Homo sapiens: one gene and its partners. The protein of the gene in region 2 purifies or fractionates together with the protein of the main gene of each other region. This does not show direct contact. Each region holds a gene or a part of one and is shown on either strand. Other genes may lie near its edges.

Region 1 (3,500 bases), on a different chromosome or scaffold from region 2:
TCTTATACAAAAACTGATGGTCACATAATATTTTTTTCAAAAATACTAAAGTTAACCAATCTCTTATGACCAAGAAAAGTGCTAAACAGAATACAGTCATTCCCACTACCATGCATTTCCACAGCTCCTTGAAAAGGACATTATACATTGGGTACAACATTCACGATTCTGGAGACGGATACAGTAAAAGGCCAAACTTCACCACTGTGCAACGTATGCATTAAGAAACCTATACTTGTGGCCGGGCGTGGTGGCTCATGCCTGTAATCCCAGCACTTTGGGAGGCCAAGGCAGGTGGATCACCTGAGGTCAGAAATTCAAGACCAGCCTGGCCAACATGGAGAAACCCTGTCTCCACTAAAAATACAAAAATTAGCTGGGCGTGGTGGTGCACACCTGTAATCCCAGCTACTCGGGAGGCTGAGGCACAAGAATCACTTGAACCCAGGAGGCGGAAGTTACAGTGAGCCGAGATCGCGCCACTTCACTCCAGCCTGGGTGAAAGAGCGAAAGTCCGTCTCAAAAAAAAAAAGAAACCTGTACTTTTATGTACTTATATTCCCTAAATATACAAAAAGTTACAAAATAATAATAATAATAAGGACGTGAAAGAATACGTACTCAGAAGCTGCTCATCTCTCTGTTTTCTTCTAGGCTGTACATATGTAGCATTGAATGAATCTGTGATAAGTAGGGAAGGCCTGCTTAGCATTTCCAGGGAACATCCATTTAAATGGCTATAAGAAAGTTTAAGAAGAGGAATATTTTATATCATTTCAAGTAAACAATAATAGCTTCTCTTACTTAAAAAATAAGCAGCTTCATTTATAAGGTGTTCCCTCCTCTAACTATAAAAGTAGACATGCTCATTGATAAGAAATCCAGTAACTTCAAAAAAGTATAAAGAAGAAAATAAAAATCTTCCAGAGTACCATTACTCAGAGATAACTGACATAATATTTTGGTGTACATCCTGCTAACCATATAAGTTTTTCTATGCACATATGTATTTTTTTTATTTTTCTTTTTGCCCTGTCTTATGGTAAGTACTGATATACATATGTATTTTACAAAGCTGATATCCCATATACATTCCTATACGCTCAGTTCTATATCCTGGTTTTTACCCAGGACATAAAAATTTTTTTCTAAACTAAATGTTTAACAGTTATAAAAACATTTTATTGTGTCTACACTGTATTTGATCCTTTCCCTTTACTGATATTTCGGTCACTTATTTTTGCCATTATAATCTTCCAAAGAACATTTTTTACAAAAGCTTCAATTGCATTTCTGATTGTTTCTTTAGGTCACATTCCTAAAAATGTATTTACTGTTAATACATAGTACTGCTAAAAGGCTTTCCAGCAAGATTTAACCTCATCCAGAAAAGTTCAATCAAAAAGACTGACCAATTCTACATACTTCCCAGAAGAAAATCACCATTTAAAAATAATTTTGGACTAGTGCAGTGGCTCATGCCTGTAATCCCAACACTTTGGGAGACAGAGGTGGGCAGATCACTGGAGCCCAGTAGTTCAAGACCAGCCTGGGCAGCATGGCAAAACCTCATCTCTACTAAAATTACAAAAATAGCCAGGCATGTTAGAGCGCACCTGTAGTCCTAGCTACTTGGGAGGCTAAAATGGGAAGATTGCTTGAAGCTGGGAGGTCGACACTACAGTGAGCCGTGATTGTGCCTCCAGCCTCGGTGACAGAGTGAGACTCTGTTTCAAAAAAATACATAAAAATATAAATAAGAATAATAATAATTTTAATGGTATCTAACAAAAAAAGATCATTTAAATTTTCTCTTTTGACTTTATAACTTTTGTCCATCTTGCAACTGGTATATTTTTATTAATAAATTAATACTTGATCTTATATATATGTTGTAAGTTTTTGGGCAACTTGCTGCAAATATTTTCCTACTTTGATTTTTTTTTTTATTTGTTGTTTCAGACATTTGAACCTGTATGTCATCAAATCTATCAAACTTTTACTTTGTAACTTGGTTCATTATTTTTATGCTTACAAAGTCTTTTCCAAATCAGAGATCAGACTCACCAATATTGCTTCATTTCTATTTAGTTCTAATCCATCTGAAATTTCTTTTGTTATATAATTAAAAGGACACAAATTGATTTTTTTCCAAAATGGTTGAATCCTTCAATACCATTTACTCAAATAGCCATGCTGCAGTTTGCCACGGTTACTACGAGACTGAACGAAGGAGGACGAATGCAGAAATGAAAACTTAAAACAAAAGTAACTATTTTAAAGGAAGGGGTCAGGAGAAGAAGAAGAGAGCTCCCTGCTTCTAGTGAGCAAAGGGAGCTGCCTTCAGCTTCTACAGCCCTTCATATTTATTGGGTAGAAAGAGCAGGGAGGACGAGGTAACAATTGGTCAGCTGCTTAATTGATCACAGGTTCACATTACTGCTAACAGGCTTCAGATGTGTCTAATCACAAGAAACACCTGCACCTGAGGCCTGACTGCCCTCAGCATTCCTTCTGGGTGGCAGACACAGTTTGTCAGTTTGCCAATTTTCTGCGTTTATGCGAACAGTTTGCTGTTTACTCATATAGCCTCCAGTGGTATACTGAGTTGATCACGACCCTCACTCTTTTGCCCTGCAACATAGCCATCCTTTCCTCATTAATCTATGGTTATAAGTGTCTAAAATTCAGTCTATTTGTCTTAAATATTTCTTAATATAAAGATCCTGAGACTATTGTAATGTAACACAAAATAGCTATGAACTTAATGTACAGATAAAACAAAACGAGCCTGTAAGAGACTAAACACCAAAATATTATATAGTAATGCTCTGAGTGCCACATGAAGTGTGTAAAATCATAACTAGAATTGAGTTCCCTTTCAAAGGGACTAACTTTAAACATACAGGGCAGTTATATTAGATGGTAATTACATTATGTGCAAGGCAACTCCTGTTTCTAAAACTATCAGATCTCGTGAAACCCATTCACTATCACAAGAACAGCACGGGAAAGACCCAACCTCATAATTCAATCATCTCCCACCGGGTCCCACCCACAACATGTGGGAATTATGGGAGCTATAAGATGAGATTTGGGTGGGGACACAGAGCCAAACCATATCACGTTACAAAACAAAAGAACAACCCATCCACAAAGTTGTGTTAAATAGCAGGTCAAGAACATGTAATTTGATACGTAAAAAATTCATCTCCTTTGCAACATCTCCAGGGAGATACCCGTTTTGTAGAGTGTATACTTAACCTATAAATTTTTAAAATCTCTTATGTCTTATACCATACTTTCCCCCTTACTATGCAAATAATTAATTTTGAAAACACTCCCTATTTGACGGTTTTAAGTTGCTCTAAATTTCTGGTAACCAAAACAAAAACTGTGTTTCTTATTTTTTCTCCAAAGAATAAAATAATACCAATTGCATTGCCTTTAGCTTTTCTCTTGATATACCTACATCTCCCTCTTGTGGTTGAAGTCAACTG
Region 2 (3,730 bases):
TCTAACTTAAATCATCGCATGTATTGAGCCATAAATAGAGCTTCCAAGATAGAAGGAAAGTCGTCCAGTATTAGGCTGGACCTGGTGGCTCATGCCTGTAATCCTAGCATTTAGGGAGGCCGAGGCAGGAGGATTGCTTGAACACAGGAGCTCCAGACCAGTCTGGACAACATAGGGAGAACCCAACTCTACAAAAAATTAAAGAATCATTAGTTGGGCATGGTGGCACGCACCTGTGGTCCCAGCTACTCAGAAGTCTGAGGTGAGAAGATAACTTTACCTCCTAAAGGCCCAGGAAGTTGAGGCTCCAGTGAGCCATGATTGCACCTCTGCACTCCAGCCTAGGCAAGACCCTGCCTCAAAAATAATAATAATAATAATAATAATAATGATTTAAAAAGTCCGGGCAGGCTCATGCCTGTAATCCCAGCCCTTTGGGAGGCTAAGGCAGAAGGATCACTTGGCCCAGGAGTTGGAGACCAGCCTGGGCAGCAAAATGAGACTCCATCTCTGCAAAAATTTAAAAAATTAGCTGGGCATGGTTGCACACGCCTGCAGTCCCACCTACTCAGAAAGCTGAGACAGGAGGATCACTTGAGCATGAGAGGTCACGGAGGCTGTAGTGAGCTGTGCTCATGACACCACACTCCAGCCTGGGAGACAGTGAGACACTGCCTCAAAAAAAAAAAAAAAAAAAAAAAAAAAAAAGGAAGTCCAATATTTCCTCTTATAAGGAGCATCATCATTTCTTCAAGGTGCAAAGTAATTTTTAAGACTTCATAGCGGCCAGGCATGGTGGCTTACACTCGTAATCCCAGCATTTTGGGAGGCTGAGATGGGCAAATCACCTGAGGTCCGGAGTTCGAGACCAGCCTGGTCAAAATGGTGAAACCCCGTCCCTACTAAAAATGCAAAAAAATAGCCGGGCATGGTGGTGCGTGCCTGTAATCCCACCTATTCGGGAGGCTGAGGCATGAGAATCACTTGAGCCCGGAAGACGGAGGTTACATGAGCTGAGATCGTGCCATTGTATTCCAGCCTGGGCAACAAGAGTGAAACTCCGTCTCAAAAAAAAAAAAAAAAGACTTCATAGCCAGTTATCACATAAATTTTCACAAAAAAACAGGCTGGGCAGTATAAAATGCACCAACAGGTGGAAAGTGTCTTAGGTCAGTGACCTGAGTTTTGTGCTTATTGCTCAGATTCCAACACACCCCCAGCACCCACATCTCCCCAAAAAATTTCTATAAGCTTACCTCTGCATTGGGTGTACAAGACCGCCTGATGAATCGAGCCTCATTCCCAAAAGTCCTTGCATCAACACACATTTCTAGCCCATGAAATTTAGAGTAGAATAACACAAAAGGGTATGGTCTACAAAGAAAGAAACATTATAAGCTATTAACATTTTAGGCCGGGCATGCTGGTTCACACCTGTAATTCCAGCACTTTGGGAGGCCGAGGCAGGTGGATTGCTTGAGTCCAGGAGATCAAGACCAACCTGGGCAACATGGCGACACTCCGTATTTACAAAAAAAAAAAAAAAAAAAAAAAAAAAAAAAGGCCAGGCATGGTAGCATGTGCCTGTAGTCCCAGCTACCTGGGAAGCTGAGGTGGGAGGATCACCTGAGCCCAGGACATCAAGGCTGCAGTGAGCCATGATCATGCCTCACTGATAGAGCGAGACTGTCTCAAAAACAAACAAACAAACAAAAGTCAACATTTTAGGACAATAATCTGTTACTCTTCAGAGGCAAAGTGATGAAGAAACTTAAGAACACAGAGTCTAAGAAACTTCTAAAAGACATAGTGAAGCCAAGATTTGAATATAGGCAGTCTGACTCCACAATTCACTCTTATCTTATGCTAGTTTATGCTAATGAGATTTTTACCTGCCCCATAACCTCACCTAAATCAAAGGCAATTAATGGAAGGTAGAAATTCCAATTTACAAAGAAAGATAAAAAGAGAGTGACTACTGCATTCACAAGATTAATTTGATGTCTTTAGAGTTCACATTTCCTGGTGCATTTAAAAGTATCTGTCTTATACCGTTTCAGATCAAATCTGCTACATAATAGGGAGAAATTGCTGTGTATCTTTCATATCTTAAGTAAATATTCAAGTTATAAACAATAAATGTTTTTGATAATTGTAGGACACAGACTAGGAATGTTCTCCTACAGATATGAACATACTTCTAGACTACAGGGAAGCAACGCCTATCAAAGGGTCATATTAATTCTGCATACAAATCTCAAACCAAAGAAGAGACCTCCAATACCATTCCAATACCAACAAAGTGGGTGTTGAAAGTGGTGGCAATAATGTAGGACCCAATCTAACACTGTCTAATAAAGAGGAAGGGGTTTCTCCTATGGTTACCATGGTCTTTCTCCATTCCGGCTATTACGTTATGAGGAATTATCATGAGTCCCAGATGGAAAGGGTTCCTTGTAATCTCAATCAATCAGAATTCCTGACTGATATCCTTCTATATCCAACCTATATTGCTGTTGGTTAATCTTTGAAGTAGATTGTTTTAGGATTTTCAGCAAGACAGACATGAGCAAGAGACCGGAATATATCTTTGCATTTTTTTATGTTGTTTTAGTTTATCGTAGTTCAAAAATTATCATCAGTCACTGTTCAACCACACTACAGCTTTAAATACTGAAATGATCATGTAGGAAAAAAAGTACATATAATCACAACATCTAGGTAAAACAGCCAAAAGTTCAATATTTACCTACAGAAAATGAACATGGGAAAATAAATGAATATACCTTTTAAAGAAATACCCATTTGCTTCAAACTGTTCTCTCAGCATAAACTTCCCTCTGTATTCAATGATAAGTGCATCAGGAGGCAAATCTTTTGCAGATTTAAGAATTTTCTTATTCTTTTGTATATGGCTCTAAAATCAGAGTAAATGTTGAGATTAAATAAACTTGCTTGTTTTCAGTTTAACTAAAAATTCACAATATAAAACTGCTTTACAATTTTTGGACAAATGATGTATTTACCTCTACAGGAGGTTTGAAGAGCAAATTGTTGGTATTCAAATCGGATTTATTCATCTCTTTTTTGTCATTTCCATTGCCTAATCTCAGAGCTATTCTTTGTGCCTCCCTCTGAACACCCTCACTGTACTGGTTGTTATTTGCTTCTTCATATCGATCCATCCATGCTTTGATCTTTGTCTCCCATCCAAAATTTGAACCATCAGATGAAGGATCAATCTCTGGAGCTGAACCCTAAAATCATAAACTGAGCTTTAGTATCTGGACTTACGGACTTACACACACACACACACACACACACACACACACACACACACACACACAAAATTAACGGCAATCTATACAAAAGAACATAATATAAACTAGAAACTGCTGTTTAACGGTTTCTTTTCCAGAAATGTGGAATAATAAATACCACAGGGACAAAAGATACACTGTAACATGCTCCCCACATCCTATTTAATGTGACAATTTTAGAAATTTGTTATCCTTTTCTACCTAAGCCAGAAAACTATAGTAACAGCATACAGCTGACCTCTGTGACCCCAGACAAACTTATGTTTTGGGGTCAGACAGAGGCGAGGAGCCTCGCTTCTCTCAGCAATTTTAGCATCTAAAAAAGTGAGGACATACATTAATTAATTCAAGATACTTTTTAGCTACCATCGATCATTCTGACTGGTTTGTATTGATATGGTTGTTCTATG
Region 3 (3,730 bases), on a different chromosome or scaffold from region 2:
TTTGGTTCAAATGGGATAAGAAGCTCTCCACAGCTTGCTCTCTGGCCAGAGGGCATCTTCAGCACATGCTCTTCTGTCTTTTTCATCCCTCTGGATCCCTGTTTCCCTCTTTGCCATCTTTGCATTTGGTAATTTAAGTGCTGCTGTGTTCCTCACCACCACATGGAGAAAACGACTTGGAACTATGGCTTCTCCACAATATGAGACATGTAGAGAAGTGGCTCATAGAGCCACCCATTCCTTGGTCTGCCCACACACCGGGGTAAGAAGGGGAGTGTGTGTTCCTTTAGGCAGAACTCCAGAGAAGGGCGAGCAGCTTGCATCTCCCATCTCCCCAACTCTGGAGCGCCCCCCACCCTGACATCCTTACCCGGAGGCTAGCAAATCACTGACAGGATTCCAGGCACAAATGAACACCTCAGACTCATGGCCCCGAAGGACTGTGGCTTTGCTGGATGGAATCTCAACCTCTCCATCTATTTCCATTGGCTTCGCGTGATTATCTGTCACAGCAAACACAAAGAGACAAGTGGCTTACCAATACAAGAGAAACACACTTAAAGGGCTCTTTTGTTTCCAGAAACATTTTTTTTATGTACTAAATACTACCTCTGATGATTCCTTTTCTTTTTTTTTTTTTTTTTTTGAGACGGAATCTTGCTCTGTCGCCCAGGCTGGAGTGCAGTGGCACGACCTCGGCTCACTGCAACCTCCGTCTCCCAGGTTCAAGCAATTCTCATGCCTCAGCCTCTCAAGCAGCTGGGATTACAGGCATGTGCCACCACACCAGGCTAATTTTTGTATTTTTAGTAGAGGCGGGGTTTCACCATGTTGCCAGGGTCGGTCTCAAACTCCTGGCCTCAAGTGATCCACCTGCCCCAGCCTCCCAAAATGCTGGAATTACAGGCGTGAGCCACCACGCCCGGCCTACCTCTGATGATTCTAACGAAATCGTGGCTTTAGTGCAATTTAGTAAATATTTTAGGTTTCTTTACATTTTGACAGTCTCTAAATTTCATTGAGGAATAAAAACAGTTTGCTAAGTGCAGTGGCTCACACCTAAAATCCCAGTGCCTCAGGAGGCTGAGGAGGGAGGACTGCTTGAGACCAGGAGTTCAACAGCAGCCTGGGCAACATAGCAAGACCCCATCTCTATAAAAACAACAACAACAACAACAACAAGAAGTTAGCCAGCCCTGGTGGTGCACACCTGTAGTCCCAGCTACTCAGGAGGCTGCGGTGGGAGGATCACTTGAGCCCAAGAGATTGAGGCTGTAGTGAGCTATGATTGTGCCACTGTACCCCAGCCTGGGTGACAGTTATTTTTTGTAACTGGGGCCAGCTAACTACAGCCCATGATCCAAACCTAGTCCCTGGCTGCTTCTGCATAAATAAAGTGTGACTGGCACACAGCCACTGCCCATGTTTTCAAATTGTCTATGGCTACTGTTATGGGCTAAACTATGTCCCCCTAAAATTCATATCTTGAAGCCCCAATTTCCAGGGGCCTCAGAATGTGGCTGTATTTGGAGATAGGGCTTTTGAAAAGGTGAGCAGGGTAAAAGGAGGTCACAAGGGTGGGCCCTAACCCAGTGGGACTGGTGTCCTTATGAGAAGAGGAGATCAGGACACAGACACAACCAGAGGAACGAGCACGTGAAGACATGGAGAGAAGACAGTCTCTACAAGCCAAGGAGAGAGGCCTCGCAAAGGAACCAGCCCTGCCCACACCTTGATCTTGGTCCTCCAGCCTCCAGAACTGTGAGAGCAAATTCTTAAACAGCCTGGTGTGTGGCCTTTTGTTACGGCAGCCTGAGCTGACTCTCACAGCTGTTTTTGCACTCTGACAGACTTCAGCAGCTGTGACAGAGACTGCATGACCCTCAAAGCCTGGGACATTTACTGTCTGTCCCTGTAAAGAAAGTTTGCTAGACCCTGGTTTATGCTCCTGAGAAAGGAGCAATATAGCCTGATCATCAAACAATTAGCCATGGTTAACAGTTTCACAATACGGTGAGGAATTGAGCATGCTTTGTCATATGTCTTTCGTAAAGGTGCTCTGGTGGAAAACCCAGGAAACAGAAGCAATGTGATCTTAGGTTACGTGTCACTGAGTAGGAGTGCTGTTTATGTAAAAAATAAGAAAACGCCTGGTGGTCCTGCTTAGCTCGAGAAGCCTGATACAAAAGATTCAAACAACAATGGGACTCTTCAATGTTGGTGTTTCTTCCATGCTCTGAAAGTGTCATCTGGCTGGAAGAGAGGAAAAACATCTTTCTGCATGTGGCAGACCCACTGTCCCTGGTGATGGCAAGAGGGAAACTGGCATCTTAGCCAGCCACGCAGTGGCAGGGGGCCTGGTAACTCCAGGCAGGAGTGACAGCCAGTATTTTCATTCTTATCAAAATGCGGCCTTCCAATGCTCCTGTCTCCATAGACTGGGCTGTGGGTCAGGCACAAGATGCAGGGTTTGAGAAGGGGGTTGGGGTGGCTGTTCCAGAAGTTCAACCAGGGTGAACTCTGGCCACATGCACAGAGGAGGAGGGCCAGACTCTTCTTTTCCTGCCCCACAATTGTGGACCTTATCAATAGAAGGCTGGTAAGAGGTCTTTTCCTTTTACCTGAGGCAGGTGGCCTTTCTGTCACCCTATTGCAATAGAAACGTTATTAACAATCTGTGAACCTTCCATTAAATGCTGGATCTGCTTCTCCAAGAATTTTTTAGCTGGTGCCTGTGGATGGTAACTTGTCACAGGGCTTGGCTCGGGCTGCAGCCTCATCAGAGGCAGCCGGCTGGCTCTCTACACACCAGGAAGTTGTGGAGCCAAGACGTACCAGGTAAGACAGCAACGTCATAGTCAGCTCGATCTTCAAGGACTGCTGGGCTGCATGGCTGCTCCGAGGGCAACAACTTTCAAATAAGGAAGAACACACACACATACACTACACCATGCACAGGTGTGCGTGCGTGCGCACACACACGCACACAAACTTGTGCACACACACGCACAGGAACACAGGTGCGCACACGCATATACGCGTGCACGCACACACGCACACACGCACACATACACGCACACGCATGCATACACACTTGCACACAGACACAGGCACATACACATGCAGATATACACATGTACAACATACATATGCACCCATGCATACCTGTGCATGCAAGTGCATGCGCGCACACGGTGCGCCATGCACGGCACATATGCTCGCTCTGAACTTGCACCCTGAAGTGGCGTCCCTACGGGTGTATAGAGCAGTATGTCTAAGTGGAGCAGGTTCTCTGGGTAGAATTTTGGGCTCTCTGACTGGCCACATACTCACAGGCAATCACCTAACAGGGACTGATGTCCTGGGGTTTTGCAAAGACCAAATAAGCCTATGCCCAGTCTCTGGGGCCCAGTGCCCTTGGCAGGAACTGCAAGCTCAATAATTATACCATAATTTGGCCAAAAACCCTCAACATGGAAGGCTGGAGGCTGAGACTAAAGGTGTCCATGAATGAAACACTTTTGTTTATCACGGGCAATAATCATGTGTTACATGAGAGTTCTCAGATTAGCAGGCGCAGCACGATTTCCTAAAGTTGAAGATGAGGGTGAAGAAGCTCAGGTCCAAGGGTTGTGATGGAAAAAATGGAACGGGAAGTTCTTCCGGCCAGATCGTAAGCAAACACTAGAGAGCAGCTTCTAAGACATTTATAGCAGGCAGGTTTTTAAGA

The links.
Region 1: the proteins of KMT2E (region 2) and CPSF2 purify together in Homo sapiens (affinity purification with mass spectrometry, with the first as the bait; one large-scale study listed by BioGRID). This does not show direct contact.
Region 3: the proteins of KMT2E (region 2) and TBL1X purify together in Homo sapiens (affinity purification with mass spectrometry, with the first as the bait; one large-scale study listed by BioGRID). This does not show direct contact.

The regions. Positions count from the first base shown.
Region 1 is NC_000014.9:92,135,469-92,138,968, reverse strand, and holds part of CPSF2 (cleavage and polyadenylation specificity factor subunit 2), read right to left. Parts: coding exon 3,473-3,500; intron 738-3,472; coding exon 622-737; intron 1-621. UniProt on the Homo sapiens protein: Component of the cleavage and polyadenylation specificity factor (CPSF) complex that play a key role in pre-mRNA 3'-end formation, recognizing the AAUAAA signal sequence and interacting with poly(A) polymerase and other factors to bring about cleavage and poly(A) addition.
Region 2 is NC_000007.14:105,076,490-105,080,219, reverse strand, and holds part of KMT2E (inactive histone-lysine N-methyltransferase 2E), read right to left. Parts: intron 3,258-3,730; coding exon 3,027-3,257; intron 2,918-3,026; coding exon 2,787-2,917; intron 1,375-2,786; coding exon 1,257-1,374; intron 1-1,256. UniProt on the Homo sapiens protein: Associates with chromatin regions downstream of transcriptional start sites of active genes and thus regulates gene transcription. Chromatin interaction is mediated via the binding to tri-methylated histone H3 at 'Lys-4' (H3K4me3).
Region 3 is NC_000023.11:9,688,352-9,692,081, reverse strand, and holds part of TBL1X (F-box-like/WD repeat-containing protein TBL1X), read right to left. Parts: intron 504-3,730; coding exon 371-503; intron 1-370. UniProt on the Homo sapiens protein: F-box-like protein involved in the recruitment of the ubiquitin/19S proteasome complex to nuclear receptor-regulated transcription units. Plays an essential role in transcription activation mediated by nuclear receptors.